Regions from separate parts of the Homo sapiens genome. Here all the other regions are linked to region 3. The links come from fine-mapping of genetic effects on gene expression. A gene starts in region 3. Each other region holds a variant in brackets. All regions are shown on one strand. Distances are between the middles of the regions.

What was found. PIP is the estimated chance that this variant, and not a neighbour inherited with it, causes the effect.
Region 1: its variant is fine-mapped to the expression of HPS5 in whole blood (TOPMed, PIP above 0.99).
Region 2: its variant is fine-mapped to the expression of HPS5 in skeletal muscle (FUSION, PIP 0.95).

The regions. Positions count from the first base shown.
Region 1 is chr11:18,354,234-18,362,233 of GRCh38, reverse strand. It overlaps GTF2H1 (general transcription factor IIH subunit 1), which reads right to left. Exons shown (of 15, transcript NM_005316.4): 12 at 4,192-4,282; 13 at 3,594-3,709; 14 at 1,527-1,619. Among named protein-coding and RNA genes, the nearest start is that of MIR3159, 30 kb to the left of the region's middle. The variant TC/C (reference allele first, on the strand shown) is at 4,387.
Region 2 is chr11:18,253,748-18,262,024 of GRCh38, reverse strand. It overlaps the pseudogene ST13P5. Among named protein-coding and RNA genes, the nearest start is that of SAA1, 8.4 kb to the left of the region's middle. The variant AG/G (reference allele first, on the strand shown) is at 4,464.
Region 3 is chr11:18,318,155-18,326,431 of GRCh38, reverse strand. HPS5 (HPS5 biogenesis of lysosomal organelles complex 2 subunit 2) reads left to right here and starts at 4,292. Exons shown (of 23, transcript NM_181507.2): 1 at 4,292-4,486. GTF2H1 (general transcription factor IIH subunit 1) reads right to left here and starts at 3,865. Exons shown (of 15, transcript NM_005316.4): 1 at 3,692-3,865. RefSeq lists enhancers at 3,888-4,307, 4,318-4,617, 3,508-4,707, 3,845-4,794.

The DNA.
Region 1 (8,000 bases), 36 kb before region 3:
TTTCTATGTTTAGATACACACATACCATTGTGTTAAAACTGTTTACAGTATTTAGTACAGTACTATGCTGTACAGGTTTGTAGCCTAGGAGCAACAGGCTACACCATATAGCCTAGAAGTATAGTAGGCTATATAGCTAGGTTTTAAGTACACTCTGTGAGGTTCATACAACAAAACTGTCTGTCAATGAATTGTTTAGAACACATCCCTGTGGTTAAGCAACACGTGACTGTACTATTCTTTCCAAGGTACCTCTGGGAGGGCTTGTATAACTGCACATACAAATGATCTGATGTGGTTGCTCTAACCTTGTTTTAAATACAATGCTAAAAATGCTGGGCATAAAGTGACACTTCTCAATACCTCATCCACTGACTTTCCCCACTGTAAACAATCAGGGAAGCTGATGCCAAATAGAACCCAGGAACAGTTTTGCTTACTATGAGTAGTGGCAATTCTATCTTTCCTTACGCTGCTAGGTTTGTGCTTGCTACTCAGTTTTTCCAAATTAATAAATTAGTAATATGTATTTTTCAGAACATACACATAGATTGTAAAACTTTTTGAGACAGAGTCTCACTGTGTCACCCAGGCTGGAGTGCGGTGGCATGACCTCGGCTCACCGCAACCCCTGTCTCCCAGGTTCAAGCAATTCTCCTGTCTCAGCCTCCCGAGTAGCTGGGACTACAGGCATGCGCCACCATGCCAGGCTAATTTTTGTATTTTTAGTAGAGACAGGGTTTCGCCATGTTGGCCAGAACTGGTCTCGGAACTCCTGACCTCAAGTGATCAGCCTGCCTTGGCCTCTCAATGTGCTGGGATTACAGGCATGAGCCACCGCACCCGGCCAGATTGTAAAACTTTTCTAAGGGAAAGCATGGAGATGGTTATCACAAATGCTTTGGTTAGTCATGACCTCTGGAGGGGAAGAGAGAGTGGTATGCAACTGGACAGGGGCACTCAGGGAATATCTATGGGTTATGGCAACATTCTACTAATTTTCCTGATTGGTGAGTAAACAGACAGTTATTTTATTATTTAAAAAATATGTATGTATTTTATATACTTCTGAATGCATGACACATTTCAATATTAAAAAACAGTACTTTGAGCAACAGAAAATAAAGTATTGGCCGGGTGCAGTGGCTCATGCCTGTAATCCTAGCACTTTGGGAGGCCAAGGTGGGCTGATTACCTGAGGTCGAGTTTGAGACCAGCCTGGCCAACATGGTGAAACCCCGTCTCTACTAAAATACAAAAATTAGCTGGGCGTGGCAGCATGCGCTTGTAATCTCAGCTACTCAGAAGGCTGAGGCAGGAGAATCGCTTGAACCCAGGAGGTAGAGGTTGCAGTGAGCTGAGATGGAGCCACTGTACTCCAGCCTGGGCGACAGAGTGAGACTCCGTTTCAAAAAAAAAAAAAAAAGAAAATTAAGTATCTACTCATTTACATGAAAGCAAAATCAATTTCATCATTTTACTACAAAGAGAAAGAAGATCAGGCAAAAATCAGATTGCTGCCTTACATTTGTGCTTAAATACTGTCTCCGAATCTTTTCTTGGAATGGACAGAGCTTCGTAACTTGGAATCGTTCCAAATTACTTTTCATTTTCACTACCTAAAAAAGATGAGAAACAATAAATTACAGAGAAATCTCAAGCTGTAGAGACCAACAGAAAAACAATCTTCTACATATGAAAGTTACTTTTCTTGTAGAATTTTTTTAAATGTAAAAATAAAATAAAAATATACCAATTATATCACATTGTTAACCCTTCAATGTGAATATCTTTCAGTCATAAATACTCATTTGGCCAGACGTGGTGGCTCACGCCTGTAATCCCAGCACTTTGGGAGGCCGAGGTGGGCGGAACACAAGGACAAGAGATTGAGACCATCCTGGCTAACATGGTGAAACCCCGTCTCCGCTAAAAATACAAAAATTAGCTGGGCGTGGTGGCACACGCCTGTAGTCCCAGCTACTCAGGAGGCTGAGGCAGGAAAATTGGTTGAACCCAGGAGGTGGAGGCTGCAGTGAACTGAGATCACACCACTGCACTCCAGCCTGCCGACAGAGTGAGACTCCATCTCAAAAAACAAAAACAACAAAAAATCCCAACTCATTTAAATAGTCACTCATTCATTTATTCATTCATTTAGAGACAGGGTCTCATTCTGTCACCCAGGCTGGAGTGCAGTGGCAACATCATGGCTCACTGCAGCTTTGACCTCTCTAGGCTCAGGTGATCACCTGAGCTACTTTTCATAATTTTTGTAGAGACGGAGTTCTGCCATGTTGCCCAAGTTGGTCTCAAACTCCTGAGCTCAAGCGATCTGCCTGCCTTGGCCTCCCAAAGTGCCCGGTTTAGTGGCTCATGCCTGTAGTCCCAGCTACTAGAGAGGCTGAGGTGGGAGAATCACCTCAGCCCAGAAGGTAGCGGCTGCAGTGAGCAGAGATCACTCCACTGCACTCCAGCCTGGGTGACAGCGTGAGACCCTGACTCAATAAATAAAATAAAATAAAATAATTATTGTCTTTCAACGTATGAATATACCAAATGCTTCTCTAACCAACCCCCTTCTGGTAGATATTTAGGCCATTTCCTCTATCTTAGAGAGTGGTAGACCATCTCTAGCTAAGTATTTGCATTCCTAATTATTTCCTAAATTTCTAAATGTTGAATTTCATTTGAAGTTTCATTTGAATGCTGAAGTAAAAGCATCTAAAAAAACACTAGCAGTGGAAGAAAGGACTCTTGGCTACTTGGTCAACATTGATCATTTTAAGATTTTTGTTCTTCTGCAAATTAGTAGGTGAAAAAAATATTCTTTTAAAAAATTTATTTATGTATTTTTTGGAGACAGAGTCTTGCTATGTTGTCCAGGCTGGTCTCCAACTCCTGGGCTCAAACAATTCTCCCGCCTCAGCCCCGCCAAAGTGTTGGGATTACAGGTGTGAGCCACCGTGCTTGGCCAAAATGTTCTTTTACTGTAGCTGTAATTTATCTGCATACTGGTAAGTGTGAGCATTTCCCCTTAATCTTCCTAGGCCACTCCATTCTTTAGTGAGTTGCTTGTAAAGTGTTTGCCTATTGTGCTTAATGAGGTCTTTATCTTTTACTTAATCATAGTTTATGAAAGCAATTTATAGTATTACTATTAATGTTACATTTTTCATTTGTCAACTGTCCTTTAATTGGTTAAAGCGGTTTTAGTGTTAAAAAGCTAGTGCTATATTTGTTGTCAGTTCTTATTTTGGATTTTGTTATCCCTGAAAAACGTATCAAATATAAATAACTTTATTGATGTAATTTGTTTTGGGTCTCTATTCACAGTGGCTTGGAGGTAGATACAAGTTTTAAGTTGTATGATTATTAGTTATGGAACTCGTCTGGATCTCAGTTTCCAAATCTATAAAATGGGTACCAATAGCTACTCCATAAAGATGCTGTGAGGTTTACATGAAACGATGTATGCAAAAGAGTTATCCCAGTGTCTGTCACATGGTAAGACTCAATAAAACTTTCCAATTTCAAAACTTCTTGTAAGTCACTACCACAATTATCTGGCTGTCTTCAGAACTGGTTCTAACCTTTTCTTCTAGGAATGGCGTATTAACAGGAAAGCAGGACCAGAAATGTCGTAGAAGTTCTCCAACAGCTACATATAAGTGTTTCAATTCAGATTGAATATCATTTGGCACCATCTCTGCAAAAGAAGAACAAGGCCCATAGGTTAAGAGCTATTTTAACATATACAGTCTCGAAAAAAATGACCACTCAGAGAATAAATTTGAATGTGTACTCTTTGTCAATGCCAAACCAGGATGTGCTATTTTCAGATAAGTTAGTAATTTTGTGGCTGAGAGATCATAAAATTTAAAAGCTCTTGGGATTTCAAAGAAACTTTCAGGTTTCCCCTTTATTCTAAGAGGTAGGGGAGAAGAAAGGAGCTTTTACTATGATATTAGAGAAACTAGCAATGTACCACTATTTGTAATAGTAAGACGGTTCTGAAACCTAAGATCTTGTCTAGATGTGTTTCAGAATCTGAATGTATAAAAACAAATCTACAAAATAGAAATCCCAGGATTATTCCAAGGAAAAACCAATAAAAGTTCAGCACTCCTCCCAGCTTGCTTTTTAAAGCTGATTTAGGCAGAAAGTAGTAGAAGATGGCCCGGCACATACGGTTTATGGCTTGCTGTGTTCCTCCCTGCATAAGTGCCCCTCCAGGTGACAGTGCTGTGATGGTACTACTGGCAGCACTACTTGAGAGAACCTGAAAAAAATGAAGATGCATTAAAACTGGTTTTCCTCCCTTTTTTTTTTTTGCCACCTCTCTTTCTTAACATTTTAGTTTTAGAGCAGACAATGAAGTGCTTT[TC/C]CTTTTGTTTAAATACTACATCATTTACAGTGGTCAAAGTGAACTATTTTCCTTGAGGGCAGAAACACAATCCGTGTAGAAAGAAGATACCTACAAATCTCCCAGGCATGCCAGGCAAGTCCACAGGGACCTCAAAACTCCCAAGGTTTTGCCTAGTTAAAGCCCTTTCTTAAGTACCAATTCAATTTAATATGAGAACTCTTACCACTGAAGGTAAAATTGAGTTTAAGGAAAGAAAACAGGTAAAACAACATGTTAACCTGTATCCTTTGTTTCTGTTAAATTTATTTTTCTAAGAAACAAAATCTTGTTATGTTGCCCAGGCTGAACTTGAACTCCTGGGCTCAAGCAATCCTCCTCCCTCAGCCTCCTGAGTAGCTGGGACAGACTACAGGTGTGTACTCCGCACCTGGCTTTGCTAACATATACCCTTGATAACAGAGTGGGGGAAAAAAAAATAAAGAGCAGAAATTTATTAACTGTCATTTAATTTTCAAGGAAGTGAATAAATATAGCCAAAAGGGGGAAAAATATACTCCCCACTGTATCAACATCAACATTTAGGAAAAAATTGACCTATCTATTCGATGAGTGCCTATCAAGTGCCAGGTACTGTAGGGAGGCACTGCTATAGGGAGGAACAAATAATTTGTGAAACAGCAAGTGCAGGGTTAGCATCTCTAAGATTTTCCAATGAAGTTTTTATGAGTAGAAATCCATCCATGTATAGATTGGATGAAAACATTTTTTCAACTTAGTGTAAAAGTACAGTATGGGACAACCATGAGTGAAGGGGACATTGGAGCTCACTTTATTCCTATTTTCCTTTTGTCAGATACCAGCCTGGGCAATATGGTGAAACCCTGTCTCTACAAAAAATACAAAAAAATTAGTTGGGCATGGTGGTGCATGCCTGTAGTCCTAGCTACTTGGGAGGCTGAGATGAGAAGATCATTTGAGCCTGGGGAAGTTGAGGCTGCAGTGAGCTGAGATGGTGTCACTGCACTCCAGCCTGGGCAACAAAGCAAGACCCTGACTGCAAAAAAAAAAAAAAAAAAACAAAGATTGACTACAGTGTAAAAAAATTACATGGGGAGAGCTGGGCATGGTGGCTTACAATTATAATCCTAGTGACTCAGGAGGCTGAGGTGGGAGCATCGCCTGAGCCCAGGAGTTCAAGGTTGCAGTAAGCTATGATAGTGCTACTGCACTCCAGTCTGGGTGACAGAAACCTCACCTCTAAATCAAACAAACACCACCACCCCCAAGACAAAAGTTATGTGGGTCTACTCGGGCCCAAGGGCCAGATACTGGACAACTATAGTCTACATTGAAAGAATTGGTCAAATAATCCCAGGTTGGTTATGTGTGCATTTATGTACACATATGTATTTTCTAGCTTTCTGCTGAAGGGACAATGACACCCCAATGTATACCTAGTGCCCAGATTTTTTTTTTTTTTTTTTTTTGAGACAGAGTCTCACTCTATTGCCCAGGCTGGAGTGCAGTGGTGCGATCTCGGCTCACTGCAACCTCCGCCTCCCAGGCTCAAGCAATTCTTCTGCCTCAGCCTCCCGAGTAGCTGAGACTACAGGTACGCACCACCATACCCAGTTAATTTTTGTATTTTTGGTAGAGACGGGGTTTTGCCATGTTGGCCAGGGTGGTCTAGAGCTCTCAAGTGATCTGCGTGCCTCGGCCTCCCAAAGTGCTGGGACTATAGGTGTGAGTCACTGTGCCCGGTCCCAGATCTTGGTTCCTACCTTGATCCACTCAGTGCTAAAAAGAAAATTCCACGCCTGGGACAGGGCAGATGTAAGATAAGCCTGGAACATCTATCTTACTATACCATTCAGTAAGGAGGGGCTAAGAATGACGGGGATATTGTCAGAAAGACACAGGAGAGCCTGTGTGAAGTGGGTAGGAAGGGTTTGACTGTAAAGGGGCATGGGTAGACTTTCTGGGGTGACAGAACCGGTTTTTTAAAATCTTGATTTTGTTGGTGGCTACACAACAGCATGTGTTTATCAAAACTTGTAGAATAGCAGACTTAAAAAGATAAATTTCATTTTGGGAGGCTGAGGCAGGTGGATCGCTTGAGCTCAGGAGTTCGAGACCAGCCTGGGCAACGTGGTGAAACCCTGTCTACACACAAAAATATAAAAATTAGCCAGGGATGGTGACACATGCCTGGAGTCCCAGCTACTTAGTTACTTGGAGGGCTGAGGTGAGAGGATTGCTTGAACCTGGGAAGTCAAGGCTGCAGTGAGCCGAGATTGTGCCACTACACTCCAGCCTGGGGGACAAAGTGAGACCCTGTCTCGAAATAAATAAATAAATAAGTAAATTTATTTATTTATTTTACTGTATGTTAAGTTGTACCTTGGTTAATAAAAAGAAAAAAGGCTGGGCGTGGTGGCTCACGCCTGTAATCCCAGCACTTTGGGAGGCTGAGGCGGGTGGATCACGAGGTCAGGAGATCGAGACCATCCTGGCTAACACGGTGAAACCCCGTTGCTACTAAAAATACAAAAAAATTAGCCAGGCGTGGTGGCGGGCGCCTATAGTCCCAGCTACTCCAGAGGCTGAGGCAGGAGAATGGCGTGAACCTGGGAGGCGGAGCTTGCAGTGAGTGGGGATCATGCCACTGCACTCCAGCCTGGGCAACAGAGCAAGACTCCGTCTCACAAAATAAAAATAAAAAAAAAATAAAGAAAAATTAAAAAAATTTTAAAAAAAAGGAAAAAGAAAAAAACGGCCTGTAATCTCAGCACTTTGGGAGGCCGAGGCGAGTGGATTGCTTGAGCTCAGGAGTTAAAGACCAGCCTGGGCAACATGGCAAAACCCTGTCTCTACCAAAAATACAAAAACTTTGCCAGGCATGGTGGTGAGTGCCTGTGGTTTCAGCTACTTGGGGGGCTGAGGTGGGAGGATCGCTTGAGCCAGGGAGGTGGAGGTTGCAGTGGGCCGAGATCATGCCACTGCACTTCAGCCTGGGTGACAGAGTGAGACCCCATCTCAAAAACAAAAACAAAAACAAAAAGAAACAAAGAAAAAAAGATAGCAACAGTGTTTAACTCATAAATGAATCCATGCTGATATAAATAACAAACAGAGGAGAAGGGAATGCTCTTCCTTTCATGTCAGCTGATATACATAGAAGGGCTGATGGAATTAGAAAATCATCATTTAACAACTGCTCTTCCAGGCAAGAATCATCAGTGATTCTAAAAAAACTACCAGATGTAAGTTTGTTGTGTGGTGACACATGCCTATAATCCCAGCTACTCAGAAGGCTGAGGCAGGAGGATTGCTTGAGTCTAGGAGTCTGAGGTTGAACGGAGCTATGACTGTGCCACTGCACTACAGCCTGGGCATCAGAGCAAGACCCTGTCTCTAAAGATAATAATATTAAAAAATAAAAATAAAAAATTTGGTGACAAATGGGGTATTTATATAGTCTCAAAGTACAGCTCCACAAGATATGTATTAATTACAAAGGGAAAAATAGTTAACTTTTTGGTGGAGAAACCAGGCAAATACTACCTTTAACCAAGTGAAAAAATTTAATATCACAAGCTAGGATATATACAAATCATTTGCCTCCTGATAT
Region 2 (8,277 bases), 64 kb after region 3:
TTTTCACAAAGGCCCGAAGCTCGTTCACTTTGCAGGGGTCCATGGTAGGGAGGTGGTGGGTGAAGCTGGGGGCTGCGGCCCAGTTCCAGGCCCAGGTGCTGGCTCGGCATGACCGCGCAGAAGGGGGCGGCTGCCGCGAGTGAACATGGACATTGTTAATATGCAATAAAATCTCAGCCTACTTGAAATGTTTACATTAATTGTCAAAAAACATATTCAGAAGGCAAACCCTTATCATCTCTCCGCTGCTCCCAGAGAGATGTTATTAGGCATCACCTTCTGGGTTATGATGGCTTCTTAACTGGCTTCCACATTTCCCCCTTTGCCGCCAACTAGTCTCTTTTCAGTATAGCAGCCAGACTGTTACAACACAAGACAACTTCTATCACTCTCCATTCAAAACTCTCCGGAGGATTCCACTTCCACTCATAGTTGAAGTCAAAGCCCTTATAATGGTTTTCAAACTTTACTCAAACTGTCCTAACTCCTTCCTCTCGTACCTCATCATCCAATTCTCTCCTCCTGCTCATTTTGCTCTGGCCACACTGGTCTCCAAACCCCCAGGCACATCTTACCCTAGGGGCCTCGGATTAGCTGTTCCTTTCCTCTGGAACATTCTTTTCCCAGATATTTGCATATCAGGGCTTTGAGGGGGCCTTGATCCGGGAATGCAGGATACTGGAAGGTTCAACAATACAGTTATTGTCAATAAGAGTATTGGCAGTGAATGTGTTGGAAAGAGGGCCGTAAATGAACTGTGAAAATTTTCCATGAAGATGGGAGAGGACTGGAGAGTTTTGTCAATGAATACAATAAAGAGGTACTTTGTCTCCAAACATCACTAAGCAGATTGTCTACACAGAAGCTTCTAGTGGGTATTTCTAGGCTGGGCACGGTGGCTCACACCTGTAATCCCAACACTTTTGGGGGCGGAGGCGGAGGATGGGTTAAGGTCAGGAGTTTGAGACCAGCCCGAGCAACATAGTGAGACTCCATTTCTACAAAAAATTAACAATTAGCTGGGCATGGTGGCACACTCCTGTTGTCCTCACTACTTGGGAGGCTGAGGCAGGAAGATCACTTGAGCCCAGGAGTTTGAGGTTACAATGAGCTATGATTCCACCATTGCACTCTAGCCTGGCAACAGAGCGAGACTCTTGTCTCAAAAAAAAAAAAAAAATGCAGATTCCTAAGCCATAATCTTGGAGGTCTTGGTCTCAGTTCAGCGAGTTGGGGGTGATCTTCAGGAATCAGTGTTTGAAAATCTTCCTGTTTGGAAATCACTTGTGCAGATAACATTAGTAAGACTGGAGAGAAGGTGGTAATGAATTTATCAGGGACTTCAAAGAGGACACATCACAGAGGTGAAGAATGGAGAAATGGTCATGGAAAGCAAAGAGGACGAGGACCCCTCTTTCTCATTCTATTGTCTAGGAGGAATTGCAGGAGGCATACCCCATGGGTAAAGATGAGAATAAAGTGAAATCAACATGGGAAAGGCAGGTTTCAAGTTTTTGTAATGGGAAGGAAATAGGCAGAGATAAAGGGGCATCCTCACCGCAGACCCTTCTTTCGAGGAGCTCACTGGAAGGTAGTAGAAGAAGGGTGGGCAGAGTGTTGGGAGAGTTGAGGCTGACTCATAGAGAAATTAGTTGGTGTGACGTGAAAGCAGGGAGATGAGAAGAGTAAAGGGCATGGCAGTTGAGCGTGCTGGTTAGTGACAGCAGATTGGGATTCTTTATTGCTTCCGGGCTCAGTGTGGGGTGCTGTGCTATGGGGGGCTGATACTTATGAGCCAGTGGAACTACTCCCCAAAGGTCAAGTGGACTAAAATAAAAACAGTGAGGATGCCTTTCTGATCTTCTCCCAACCATGCTGAAGTCCTGAAGAGAATGGAAGTTAGCAGAAAGTTCTGGAGAGAATGAAGGGACAAGGGAGGAGGGGAAGGAAACAGTGGCTAGTGAAGGTAGGCAAGGAGTACTCTCAACACATGCTTAATATGAAACATTTATCAGCAAGAAACTAGTTTTTAAAGCTGACACACAGCATTCAAACTTGGAGGCCACAGGCCTCACAGGGCAGGTCTTCTACTTTTTGAGATCTCTAATTACTGGATCCAAACTTTCTCCCTGGGAAAGGGTAATTTGTTTTTGTATGAATTCATCTTTTATAGAGTCACAGCCAGTCCCTTCTTTCTAACATGTACACCACATCTCCTAGGCACGACTGTCTTTTGCTCATTAAGAAAAAACTCTGCCTCCAAACTCCTATCAGATGGAGAAGCTGCAGAGAAGATAAATGGCTTATTCAAGGACCAGAACCCAGGACACTCATGATACCTTGGCCAGTGCTCTTTCTTCTCCACCTCCTTGCCTCCATCCCTTAACAAATGTTCTTTTCTGGGAACTTGGACACCCCTTGAAAAGATGAGGAGTGGTTTATGGTAATTCCAGGTTGGATTATTTGGTTTGGGAGAATGCCATTGGTCACAGCAATCTCAGCTCCTGGCAGCAGAAACCTGAACTTTGTCTCTATTCCATTTTGCCATGGTTATCTCTAACAGAAAGTCCTGTTATGCAACACCAGAATACCTTCCCAGTAGAGGTTGTGACACTGAGTTCCCATTACAGATCCTAAAACCCAGCCACCTAGACTTGGAGGCAGTATGGCTGCAAGTTAAGAGCCAAGCCCTGGTTTCAGACAGACCTGGTATGACCTTGCCTCTGCCATATACTGATATTGTGGAAGAGCACTTAATGACCTGGAGAAGTATCTCTTAAGGGAAAGAGTGCAATAGAATATGATCCCATTTTTGTTCAAAGACATGTTCCCATGGTGAAACACAACCTAGGAAGTTTTACATCTGTGTTTCTAGGTAGTGCCAACAGCTTGTGTTATTCTAGATTTTTAGAATTTTTTACAATGACATGTCCATTTATTTATTGATTCATCATCAGTCATTATCCATTCACGCATCGAGTGCCTTCTATGCAGCAGATACTACAATAGATATTGGGCATACAATGAGGGGAGATGGCGGCTAACCAGGTCTAGGCTGTGCCTCCATGAAAAAGAGACTTATACTTGGGGAAAAATGATTATACATGTGTAGACATAAAGCTTATACTTATAATAAATCAGTAAGATTCCAATAAATAAATGGGAAAAATATGTGTACAAAAAGTATAATGAAAGAAAAGAGAAAGCAAGGGGTATCACTAATCATTCTAAGATTGTTTCTCCTTAAGAACAACAGTCCCCAGGTACTAATATCATTGCTCATTCCTACCATCTCTTATTAAAATAAATAAAATAAGAAATGGCTCAGCTGTCAAAAGGTCTCCTGCCACTTTACAGAAGTAAAGCCAGGCCATGGGCTATGGATTACCAGGAGGGCAGGAGAAAAGATTCCCTCCTGTTTCTTCCACTTAGCAAGTGAATCACCAGGAACACAAAAGGACCAACTATTTAATTCAGGGGCGGACTCTTTTTCTTTTTCTTTTTCTTTTTTTTTTTGAGATGGAGTCTCGCTCTGTCGCCCAGGCTGGAGTGCAGTGGCGCGATCTCGGCTCACTGCAAGCTCCACCTCCCGGGTTCACACCATTCTCCTGCCTCAGCCTCCCGAGTAGCTGGGACCACAGGCGCCCGCCACCACGCCCGGCTAATTTTTTTGTATTTTTAGTAGAGACAGGGTTTCACTGTGTTAGCCAGGATGGTCTTGATCTCCTGACCTCGTGATCCACCCGCCTCGGCCTCCCAAAGTGCTGGGATTACAGGCGTGAGCCCCTGCGCCCCGCTGAGGGGTGGACTCTTAATTGTGTTTGCTGTGTGTCGCTTCTCACAAAGCCCACACTCTCTCATGGAGAGAGAACCCTTTTCTCCTGGCTCAGAGTTTCCAAGTTGCATTCTCTAGGCACCAGAATCCAAACCTGTCTGCATTGAGTTCTGCGTCTCTTCCCCTATAGGTTGTTGGCTGAGGCTCACGCCTCCCTGAAGCCTGCTGGCCTCTAAGTGATGACTGAATCAGGTTATGAAGGACTCGCAGCGGGGGCATGTTGGGATTTGGTCATCAGCCCACTGTCGGCAACAGCAAGAGCCACTCTCAGAGTCTGAAACTGGTATTGCCAAAGGACAACAGAACTCTGCATTCTGTTTAAAAATATTGCACTTTATTCCTTTTCAAACATTTGCAAAAGGGAGTAATAAATTATAGGCGGGTGGATCACCTGAGGTCAGGAGTTCCAGACAAGCCTGGCCAACATGGTGAACCCCATCTCTACTAAAAATACAAAACATTAGCTTGGCGTTGTGGCAGGTCCCTGTAATCCCAGCTACTTGGGAGGCTGAGGCAGGAAAATCGCTTGAACCTGGGAGGTGGAGGTTGTAGTGAGCTGAGGTCACGCCATTGCACTCCAGCCTAGGCAACAACAGTGAAACTCCGTCTGAAAAAAAAAAAAAAAAAA[AG/G]ACATCTCAAAACCCCAAATCTCTTATGGACTTGTATAGTATTTATGAAACTAAGAACTCATTTGAGAAGGGGAAAATTCCAATAATTCTTCTTAAATTTCGTTTCAATTTCAAGTAATTTATAGGTATGTCTTAGGAATCATCATTAAACCTTCTGTACCAGTTAGGCTATTCAAATATCTACATCTTTAAACACGTATAGCAATTTTGAAAAATAGAGAAGTTTTTCAGTTTAGATGAACAATAAAATATTTTGTCAAAAAGACTCCTTTTCCTTTTACATTCATTGTCAGGAAAATCCAGCATAGGAAATTTACTGCTTATGGTTGAACAACATCAAATTTGTAGATTTACCAGAGAGCCTGTCTCAATCTGATTAGTTAGCAAAACAGGGAGTCCTGTTTAGTTCTCCTAAACATTTTGTAACTCCCTGATTTCTCTTGCCTTCAGAGAGATGTGATTTACAACACAGTGGTTCAATAAACAAAAAGTAATTTCAGGTCCAAGTAATTTGCCTTCCAGTTTCCCATTAATTAAAGATGATTCTCTGCCTAGATGGAGAATCAAGAGACCTTGACACATAGTCTTTTTCCATAACCCTAGCAGTGTATCTTCCTGGTCAGACCTGCTGGGTGGGCACACTTCCCAGACACAGGGCTCTCCACCTCTCTGGAGCCCCCAACCTTATTTGGGAGCTCAGGCTCACTACATTTATGCCCAGGTATGGGGAACTCACAGCCAGGAGACCTAAGCCCAGCAGATCTTGCAAGGGGAACAGGGGTACATACCACTCATAGACAGACTGAGGATAAGGATGACTTAAGCCCCTGCTTGGCATACCTTTCCTTCTTGGCACATAGATGTGTTCACCTCCAAGCCTGGCACAACTGGGAAAGGCCTGGAATTACTAGGCATTAGGACCAGTGGAAGGTTTCAGAGTCAAGGAAGAATTGAGCTTATGGCCTCCTGTAGTCCAGCTGGCTATAACGTGTCCCAGATCTGTTCCCTAACTTCCACCAGGACTGCCCATTTCCCCAACTCTAATGTGGGAATTTTTTTTTTTTTTTTTGAGACAGAGTCTCGTTTTGTCCCCCAGGCTGGAGTGCAGTGGCGCGATCTAGGCTCACTGCAAGTTCTGCCTCCCGGGTTCACACCATTCTCCTGCCTCAGCCTCCCGAGTAGCTGGGACTACAGGCGCCCACCATGACGCCCGGCTAATTTTTTTGTATTTTTAGTAGAGACGGGGTTTCACCATGTTAGCCAAGATGGTCTCGATCTCCTGACCTCGTGATCCACCCGCCTTGGCCTCCCAAAGTGCTGGGATTACAGGCGTGAGCCACCGTGTTCGACCTAATGTGGGATTCTTTAGACTGGTGGGGAGTCATTAGGGAAGGAAATGCTTTGTGTTTGCTCAGACATTCATTCCAACCCCATCCCATCTCCAATGAGAGACTTGTAAGCTCCAAATCCTGACTTTCCTTAATGCCTCAGGTCCAACGCCCTATCTGCCTCTCTACTAGCACTCCCGCTTTGCTGCCTCAAGATGCTTCCCTCCCATTGATGATGTGTGGGTATTTCTGTTGTTGTTTTTTCATGTCTTTTTCCATCTTTTTTTCTTTTTCTTTTTGTTTTTTTGGAGACAGGGTCTCACTCTGTCACCCAAGCTGGAGTGCAGTGGTGTAGTCTCAGCTCACAGCAGCCTCGATCTCCCAGGCTCAAGCAATCCTCCCACCTCAGACTCTCAAGTAGTTAGGACCACAGGCATGAGCCACCACGCCTGCCCCAATATACATATATATATACATATATACATATATATATACATATATACATATATATATACACACATATATACACATATATACATATATATACACACACACACACACACATATATATATATTCAACATCTTTGGCTTTCTCTTCTCCTTGAAATATTTTTAGTAAGATTTCTGATCTGGGCATGGTGGCTCATGCCTGTAATTGCAGCAGTTTGGGAGGCCAAGGCAGGAGGATCACTTGAGCCCAGGAGTTCAAGACCAGCCTTGGCAACATAACAAGACCCTGTATCTACAAAAAAAATAAGAAAACTAGCCAGGCATGGTGGTGTGTGCCTGTAGTCCCAGCTACTCGGGAGGTTGAGATGAGAGAACTGCTTGAGCCCAGGAGTTTGAGGCTGCAGTGAGTCATGATCACACCACTGTACTCCAGCCTGGGCAACAGAGTGAGACCCTATCTGTTTTGTTTTTACCTTAGAATATAGATTTTATTATTAGTTAGGTATGGCAAGGCCAACAGCTCAGGAGATGACTGCCATTGAGAAGATAGCCTCACAGTTCCCAAAAGAAGAGAGTGAACTATGCCACAGGGGACTGCACCAGGAAGTAAGTGGGTAAGTCAGGGAGCAGAGGAAGTAGGGGAGGTGTAGGAAGAGTCCTTACTGTGTTTCTGCAGGAAGGAATGGTGTGGCAGCATACACAGGTTTAGGATTGGCTAGCATGAATAATTTCAATGGGTGCAGGGGCATGGAGGCTGTCCCTAGTTGTTTGGGACGTGGTCCTTGAGTGATTAGGGCAGGTGGATGGTGCCCCAGGATGTGAGAGCTCGATAAAGGAGGTGGGTGGGAGTGTGGACTCTTGATTGGTTGGTCTGCACATGGAAGGCATGCTCCCAGGAGAGTCATTTACTGTGTCTAGGACTTGACTAGCTCTGAGAGAAATGGTCCCTTAGGGTCAGCAAGGGCCCAGATGCCAAGCACCAAAAACACAAAATGAAAGGACATGATTAATACAACTTGCGAGGCACCGTTGGCATGGCTCAAGCATTCTGCTTAGATAAGCCAGGCTGTCTGAGAGTCTTGCCAGTGCATGTCTCACCCTTGGCCGACATAGTTTCCCTGGTCACCCTTGCAAGTTGGCTTCCCTACTTAAAACACCTCCAGTCTCCATCCAGTCTCCCACTCCACAATTCCCACCAGGAGAGCAGTCCTCACTAAGTCCTCCATAACCTGCCTGCATCCATCCTGGGACATTTCATTCCTATGACTGCCCCCAGTGTGTCCCATCTGCTGTTCACACTCCTCTTTCCCAGGTGCCTGCTTCACACCTCATGCAACACTCCTGTTGCCTGGTGGTCTGAAGCACATGCGCATGGCTTGTCCTGGCACAGGTAGGGTAGGATCTGATGTCCACGGGCCCTCAGCATCTCCACCACATCTCATGAACCATTCCTTCCCTAGGTGCAGATCAACATCACTCCGACATTCCCTGTGGGATGGCGGGGTGGGGTACACTCACTTCTCCGTGGATCACCATTGGCAAACTTTATGCTTAGCGCTTTACAGGAAATGGTTTCATTCAGGCTGGGAGTAAGGAGGCTCTTCAAAGCTGGGCAGCCCTACTTTCCTGGCGCCCACTTTGGACATAACTGCTACTGCAAACAACTCTCGCTTCTTCTGCCCCCGAGACACCCTCTGCCCCAAAGACTGTGGCAGGGGTCACAGTGGTCTCCCCACTTGTGGCAGATCCCATGATCCCCCATCTCAGAGACCAGTACATGTCCCCTGTTCGCTCATGTCAGGGAAAAACTCTCTCAAACCGTGTATTCCCTCTGCCCTCAAACAGCAATGATCGTCAACACAGAAGACCTCCGTAACCAAAGGTGTGGGTTTTTCCCCCCACACACCAAGCAGCAGACACCAGGAGTGTCCTCCAATGCAGTTCCAACACTACCTACCTGGAGACAGTGTCAGATCCCACAGGTTGGGGGCTCAGTCCCCAAGACCTCCCCCTCTTTCTCCCCAGTTGCAAGTCT
Region 3 (8,277 bases):
CCTTGCCTCAGCCTCCCAAATAGGTGGGATTACAGGCACGCACCACCACACCTCGCTAATTTTTCTACATTTGGTAGAGATGGGGTTTCGCCATGTTGGCCAGGCTGGTCTCAAACTCCTGACCTCGGGTGATCTGCCTGCCTCAGCCTCCCAAAGTGCTGGGATTACAGGCGTGAGCCACCACGCCCAGCCATAACCTCTTATATATAACATATAAAACCATTTATATCAAAATTCATTTATGGGGAAATTTAAAAAATAAATCTGAGATAAATTACCGAACATTGGGCACAAATGGTCAATTGTCTCACAGCTAATTTGCCTGGTAAATTTTCCTGGTCATCTGTAGCACCTCTTAATTGTTCAAGGACCAATTTCAGGAGGTTTAACAGAATCACTGTAGCTATCTTACAATGCCTTCTGTGATTTCCAGGTTTTTCTTGAGTGTATTCCTTGAGTGGCAAACACTTCTTCCCAGGAGAACTCTATAAGAGCCATAGAAATTTATGAAAGTTATTGGTGTAGGCTACATTTAAACAGATCAGGTCAATGAAGATCTCGCTTTACTAAAAGACTATTTACTTATGAAATGGTCTAAGACTTCCTTAAATAGCAAGATCTATATTAAAGGCATTAATTTATTTGCAGTTAAAAATGTATTTGTCCGAATCTAAATTCATATACCTTGCTCTGAGCCTTTGTACATTCTCTTCCTTTCCCATCAACTGGCTAACTTTCACTCATTTTTTTTTTCAGTCTATGTTAAGCTTCAAAGTTACCAGCTAAAGTCTCCTATTATTTTCTTCATGGCACTTACAACAACATAATTTTTAATGTGATTCTTTTAATGTACACGTCTCCTGACAGATTGCAAGCTTCATAAGGGAGGGCAGAGGCCATATATGTCGGGTTCTCTGTAATATAGCACCCAGTAATATAGTGTTTGGCCTATAAGAAGAGTCCAAGAAGTATCAATGACATCATTTAAGATCTTGCTGTTAAAAGAATACAATCTCTTGCTAAGACATAATAAGGAATCTTTGCATATACATCTTTGCCTAAACTCCGGGAACCACTATAGTTTTCAATTCACAGATCAATGTACCATTTCTCATACAGATTCTAATAACTGGATCTTGCTCTTAAAAGGCAACAGTGATAAGGAAGAATATGAACTGGTTGAATACAAATCTTTACATTACTGCACCTCTGCATTTCCATTACCTACATCCCCTTTTCCAATGTGCAAGAGATAAATGGAGGAGAGGAGATAGGGAGCAACAAGTGAAAGAGAAATCTTCTGAAAGAAGGATTACTAGAGAGCACTGTTATATCTGCCAGCATACAAAAATGGAGATTTGGAATGCTGCTTGCCATCAAGCAATCCAAAAGTGTTTGAACAATTCAGCATTAAAGGGAATAACTTTATAAGTATGTAAAGAGTGACCAAAATGTACTGTTTTAAGGATAATTTCACAGACAAGGAAGATATTAAGGAGAATAACTGATGTGGCAATTTTAGGACTGAGCACTTGTACATTTTACAGCAGTGCAGGGAAGAGGCAGGAGGAAAATGCGACAGAGATGCATGACAGAAGAAAATATGCTCATATCCATTAATAAATACTGCATGCTGACAAGAGTATATTACCAAAATTGAGAGAAGAGTAATCAGTTGGTAATCAAAGTGGTGAAAAGAGGAACTACTAGGTCAATGGCTGATACTGCCACACTGAAGGCAGGAAAGAGAAAGGAAGGGCACAAAGACATCTCTATCAGCAGTATGCATAAGGCAGAGATAAATGGTGGCCAAAATGCTAGGAAAGCTCAAGGTATGCCAGACAACATTCTGATGGTAGGGAATAAAATAGCACAGAGAAGCAGGTTATCAGAGGGCAGGACACATGGTACCAGCAGGGAGAAGTTACAAGCCTTGAGGGCAGTACACACAGGAAGCATTCACAACCCAGGACTGGTGCTGGTCGCTGGCTTCACTACTTTTAACTGATTCTTCTCCCACACTGCACCAAGTTTCCTAGTATTTTTCAAAAGCCCTCTCTGAATTTGCTTTGATTTTTTTTCACATTTGTACTGCAATGTGTATTTTATATCACCTAAGAGAGACTCAAACTTACCAATCTGTTGCACTGCTACAAGTCGGCTGAATGGCCTGGTCAACATGGTGAAACCCCGTCTCTACCAAAAATACAAAAATTAGCCAGGCATGGTGGCGTGCGCCTGTGATCCCAGCCGCTGGGGAGGCTGAGGCAGGAGAAGCCCTTGAACCCGGTAGATGGAGGTTGCAGTGAGCAGAGATCGCGCCATTGCACTCCAGCCTGGGCAACAAGAGCAAAACTCCGTCTCAAAAAAAAAAAAAAATGTCGGCTGAGTGAGGATAGCAGACCATCTCTTTTTTCTCCTTTCTGAATGAGGGACTTAAGCCTGCTAACAGGTACAAAGTTCTCTCCAGAGTTTAGTCCTTCTCTAAGTCCAAGGCCTGCTACTAGAGGTTACCTTCCCTGCGGTTGTGACCTCTCCATCTCAACTGCTCTGGTTTTGTCTTTTAAAAAATCTTAAGGTTGGCAACTTTGGCTTAATTACCTAAGTCCAGTTCAGTGGTTTTCAAACTGTGTTCCAAGGAGTGGCCTCTAGGATAGAAGTTAAGTGGGGTGGTGGGGCCTGGCCCTTTTAAATTTAGTTCCACCAGAGCATGCTGCTTTATATATTGGGTTCCAGATAAAAATTCATGGGGAGAAATTGTTCCACTCCTTTAAAATGTTTGAAAATCACAAGTCTGGATATTGGTTTGTATGGAGTCAATACTCACTGCAAAGCACATTTCATTCAAACCACTCAGTTTTTTTTTTGTTTTTGTTTTTAAGACTGGGTCTTCAAATGGACAAAGGGTGTATTTTTCATATCTTCTTTCCCCATCCCCATTTTACTGATGCTAAAATTGGAGTTTAGGAGTCATTTGGGGCCAGGCACTGTAGCATAATTCTGGCGCTTTGGGAGGTCTAGGCAGGAGAATCGCTTGAGCCCAGGAATTCGAGGTTACAGTGAGCTATTATCACGCCACTGCATTCCAGCCAGGACGACAGAACAAGACTCTGTCTCTTAAAAAAAAATAAGAAAAGTCACCTCCTTATTTAATTTGGCCTTTGAGAACACTGGGGGATTTACAAAATAATTACATATATCCAGGTACTCATGGTCTATTTTTCATCATTACACGACAATCAAATGACCAAAACTAGGAGTGTGTGGACTGGCACGTGTTAAGGTTTTTAAGAGAGGTAAGATTGACAGGTGGAAGCAAAAGGTGTGCAGACAACAAGGTGACAGCTTTTCTCTTACAGAATCCCAGACTCAACAGCACATTTCCTGACGGGAAGGGCTTCTCTGTCTGGGAGAGGCCTCCACTTCATTCTCATAAGCCAAATCTGATCCTGGCTTTGGGTAAACCTGCTCTCAATTTAAGAGCAGGTTTCCTTTAGACAAGTAGATTAGGGGTCGCCTCTTCCTCGCCTCGGGATAAGGGCAAACAAGACGCCAGGCTTGGGCGTTGGGAGGACGGCGACAGCGACGCTGGGAACAGGGGTAGAATCCACGCCGTCCAGCGGCCCCCAGGCCTGTCAGCTCCTCACCCGCCCACCCACCCGCCCGCCTGCATTCTTCGGTCTAAACTTACCAGGTGGAAGCTACAACTCTAGACAGGAAGTAACTAACTGGGTTGGATCCGGTCGAGTTCCGCTGCGCTTCTTAGAGCCGCTGCTGGGAAGAGGCCGAAACCCAGTGGCCGCAGCAGTAGCCACCGCCTCTGTTACTAGGGGGTCTCGCCTCCATCGCTGGCTGCGAGGAGTCTGAGGGCACGTGACCGGAAGTAGCAAGGCGGGCCCTGGGCACGTGACTCAAGAGCGCGGCCGCCATGACACCTTCCGCTAGTTCCCTCCCTCCCCCACGGGTTCCCGCCTGTTTCGTTTCCTCTCTCCGGTCTCGAGCGGCGAAGGGTCCTGGGATCCTGGCTGGCCCAACCATTTGGCCTAGAGCTCCTCCGGTTCCAGTCGGCGCCGTGTCTCCAGCCCGCAACGGCCCTGCGGTCGCAGGCCGTAGAGAGCGTAATCGCGACCGCGGCCTGAGGGGGAGGGACCACGCGGAAGGAGGGGCGTGACTCGTCACGTGATGAGGAAGTGCCGTTAGTAGCGTTGTTTCCAGTCTGCGGCTCTCCTGGATGACGTCAGCAAGGAAGGGGAGGAACGCGAGGGGAGACTGAAGTTCACGTTCCGCTCTTAGTGCGCGGTGAGTTCCCCGGCGCTAAGCCGGGAGACAAGATCCGATCTACTGAGAGCTGCGAGGTACTGCCCTGGATGTGGTGGAGCTGGGCTGGGACCTCCGGGCTGCTGGTCTGTGAGCCTGGCTTTGAAAATTGGTTACTGGGTCTCCTCTCAAGAAATCTCAAGATATTAAAGTTACTGCTGTTAAAAAGGTAGTAGTTCCACTAGGCAAGGAGCTTTTTGTGGGTAGGGATTGTGTTTTGTTCATCCCTGTGTCTCTAGCGGTGTGTTCAGGTCCTGGAACATAGTAGGCACTCAGAATGTTGAATGAATGAATGTATAAATGAGTCAGTCGCCATTTGTCTGAGGCAGAGAGTTGTTTTCTGATCATTTCTTCTTGGATAGAAAGATCCCATTGTGAAAATGAGGCAGTCTGCAACTTCCCCTTCTCATTTCTTCAATTTTTGCTATCTTTCTTACTTCTTTCTCCTCTTCCTCCACGCACCTACTGGGGCAAAAGAGAAACATGTTTGCATTTGATGTGTGAGCAACAAACACTGAACTATTTTACGATAATGGAAAGATGAGATTTGGATTCAGGAGACGCGTATTCTAATCTCAGCTCTACCATTTATGAACTCTGTGATCCTTGGGCAAGCCAGTCTCCCAAAAGTTGTTTCATTTACTTTGGTTAAGCATTTGTCGCCAACTTCTATGTTCTTAGTTTTTGGTAGAGTGCCTTCACAGAAGTAACATTTAAACTCAGCTTTGCAGAAAGGTAGGGTTTTGGTAAATGGGGGAAGATTCCATAAACATCATATATTAAACCATGGAGGCACAGCAAGTTTATGGAATGAAAAAGAAAAAAAGAGTCGAGTCCAATGTAGTTGGAGAATAGAGAGGTTAAGATGGGAAATAAGGCTGGAAAAAGAAGCAGGGAGGAGATAACAGATTTTCAAGAAATAGAGCTGTTGAAGGCTTGTACAATATTATGTATATATTTTTTAAATTTTATTGTGGAAAATTTCAAACGCAGACAAAAGTAGGATAATAAATTGAACCCTCATGTACACTTAACGCAACTTGAACAATTATCAGCATTCTGCTGTTCCTCTTTATACTGTTTGTACATTTCTAGGTACTTTTTATATCCATTGTTGCATTTGATTAATAGCAGCTTTCAATTTGAGCTCAGTTCTACTGTATGTAGCTACTGGCTAAGAAGATTTTATTTATGTAAACAATTTCTTTGGGTTTTAGTTGACCACTTGCTCTGTTGAATCAATGTGTAACATGGCCACTTAAACACAACTAATACTGTTTTTAGGTTGTAATATAGAAACTTAGTGTCTAGATCCAGGAAGTTAGTGTTTCTACTCTATTCTGGGCTCATCTAACTACTTAAGGAGTATTATGCTCAGTTCTAGGCACCTCATTTTTAGGCAAACTACAGTGCCTCTGTAGAAGGTTGACTGGAACAGAGGGTTGGAAAATGTCATGTCAGGAGTGATGAAGAAACTGGGAATGTTAAATTTTTAGAAGACCTGATAATGCTTTTCAAATACAGAAGGATTGTTTTGGAAAGAGACAGCTTGTTCCCTTCAGCTGTAGAAGCTACATACAATTAGGAATAATGGTAGAGCTCTAAGTGATCAGGCTTCAGCATAGTATTAAAAAGAACCTTATAATAGTGAGCCCTTTGGAGGACTGGAATTGGCAGCTTCATGAGAGTGAGTGCTTTCTTTCCATGGCTGAAAATGTTCAGGGATCTAGGGCAAAACTAATTTCTGAATTAGGTGGACATGTTCACTGAATTACCTATGAATCTTTTTCCATCTTGAGAATTCTAGGAAGTAGGGCTCATGTGCGATCTTGAAAGCTGGGTATGTTTGGATAAGAAAATCTGGAAGGGAAGCAGTCATTTCAGGGAGAGTAAACATAAAGTATAAAGTTGAAGTTGGTTTAACACTGTCATTCAGCAGCTTCTCTGAGAATTGGCATTGCTTATGCTGTTTTTATTTTCCATTCTCATTTCTGTTAAATTCTTTTTTTCTTTTCAGTAGAACTTACTAGGTGTGTCCCCCTGCACACCCCCGCATTATATTATAACTTCCAGGACATTCTCTTTTTACCGAGATTAAGGCAAAATGACCTACTCAGAGTTTCTTTGTTTCAAGATCACAAGTAGAAGAGACACTATGATATTATCATTCCTTTCCATCTCTTGGATCCTGTACCATGGTTTTATCTTTTTCTTGAATCTTCAGTCCCTTTCGTTCTAGACTCTACTTTTAGCTACTACCTACAAATCTGTTGAAGAGTCTCCCCAATAATAACGTCAAGAGAGGTTTTCTCCTTTTCCACCAGACTTCTTGAGTAATTGAAATGTTTTATCCTCATTTTCATATCACCCACCCGTTTTCTCAAGTCTTTGTTTTCTAGCATCTAACCACCCACAGCACTTTACAGAAATTGTGTGACCTCCCAACACACAATTCTTCAATTCCTTTCTGTTGCCTGCCAAGTTAAGTTCAGGTTCTTTGGTTTGAAATTCAAAGTGTTTTGTAACTTGGGCCCAAATTAAGATTCCAGCTTTATCTTTCATTATTCCGTTGCTTGTATCCTGTTTCAACCAAAGACTAAATTTGTATTCTTCTAGTATATTCTGCATTTTTTTCTTCTCTATATATTTGCTTATTGCTACCCTACCTGCTACCCTTTCCCTTTTCCTTGAGATAAAAGCCTAGTCAGCATCAGTACTACTTTCCTTAGAGCGTTTTCTTCAGTTCCCTTTAATTCAATGTGATCCCTCTGTCCTGTAAAGTTCTAACAAAGCAGTTTGCTTATGTTTCCCTTATAAGATGTGTGTGTGTGTGTGTGTGTGTGTGTGTGTGTGTGTGTGGTATTTGTCTTTTCCTCCGTATTATAAACTGACTGACTTCTGGAATTATTTTACTTGTCTTATTTTTACCACTGTGCCTGGTACTTTACTAGGTACTCAATGAAATGAATGAGTGAAAACAATGAGGGAAGATTTTCTTAGGTCAATAATTCTCAAATATTTTGAGTACAGGCATGTGAAAGTTTCTTTCTGGGTTTTTTCTTTTTTTTTTTCCTGAACATTCTCCTTGCAGAGGTCAAGGTGTATTAGGAACAGTGTTACTAGCAGAAAATAAGATTGTGTTATGTGTGTGCAATAAAAAATATAGTCTTCGTTTTGCCACTAGAAAGTATGCTCTATGAGGGTTAGAACTTTATCATCTCCAGGACCTAGAATAATGTCTGGCACGTAGGTGGGTGCTCAGTACAAATTTGTTGAATAAATGAGTGATGGAATATATATGTTTCTGGAAAAAAAGTCAAAAACGTAAAGCATGAACAAACAACAAGAATGTATAAACAGTTCATGACTTTTTCTGTTGTATTCATTGGCTTTCTAAATTTGGCAGGTAACAAGTGATTGAGAAAAGTTATAATTAATGAGTAGAATTTTCTTTTCTTTTTTTCTGGAGATTGGTGCAAGTTGACAAAAAAGTGCATTTGAGAGTAGGTGAACACATAAAAACTTTCGTGTTACTTTACAAAGTCCTCACTGGTTATTTGGCATTTGTTACCTTGTATTCTTATCCGTATTCTGTCCTATCTAGTCTCTTTTGTTGAAGCGCTTATTTTTCTTTGTGCTCTAATTCCCTGTACCTTCTCACTTAGTAGATCTGTTCATTCATTCACCATACTTACTAAGCCCCTGCTCGGTTGAAGAGAGAAGTCTAGTGGCCTATTCCTATAAACCACTGTTAAATTGTTAGCTGATAACTGTAGGGTTTGCTGATAACAGTTAATAAGTTGAGGCCTTTACAGAAGATTGCGTTTTAATGAGAGACTCCTAAAGACAGAAGATTTAGTATTCATAGAAATGCAGCAGCAAGGTTGCTGTTTTAACTCAGGGTGATATGCCAATTTTCCTAAATCCTACTCTACCTATTCTGTTTACTCACACTGTTAG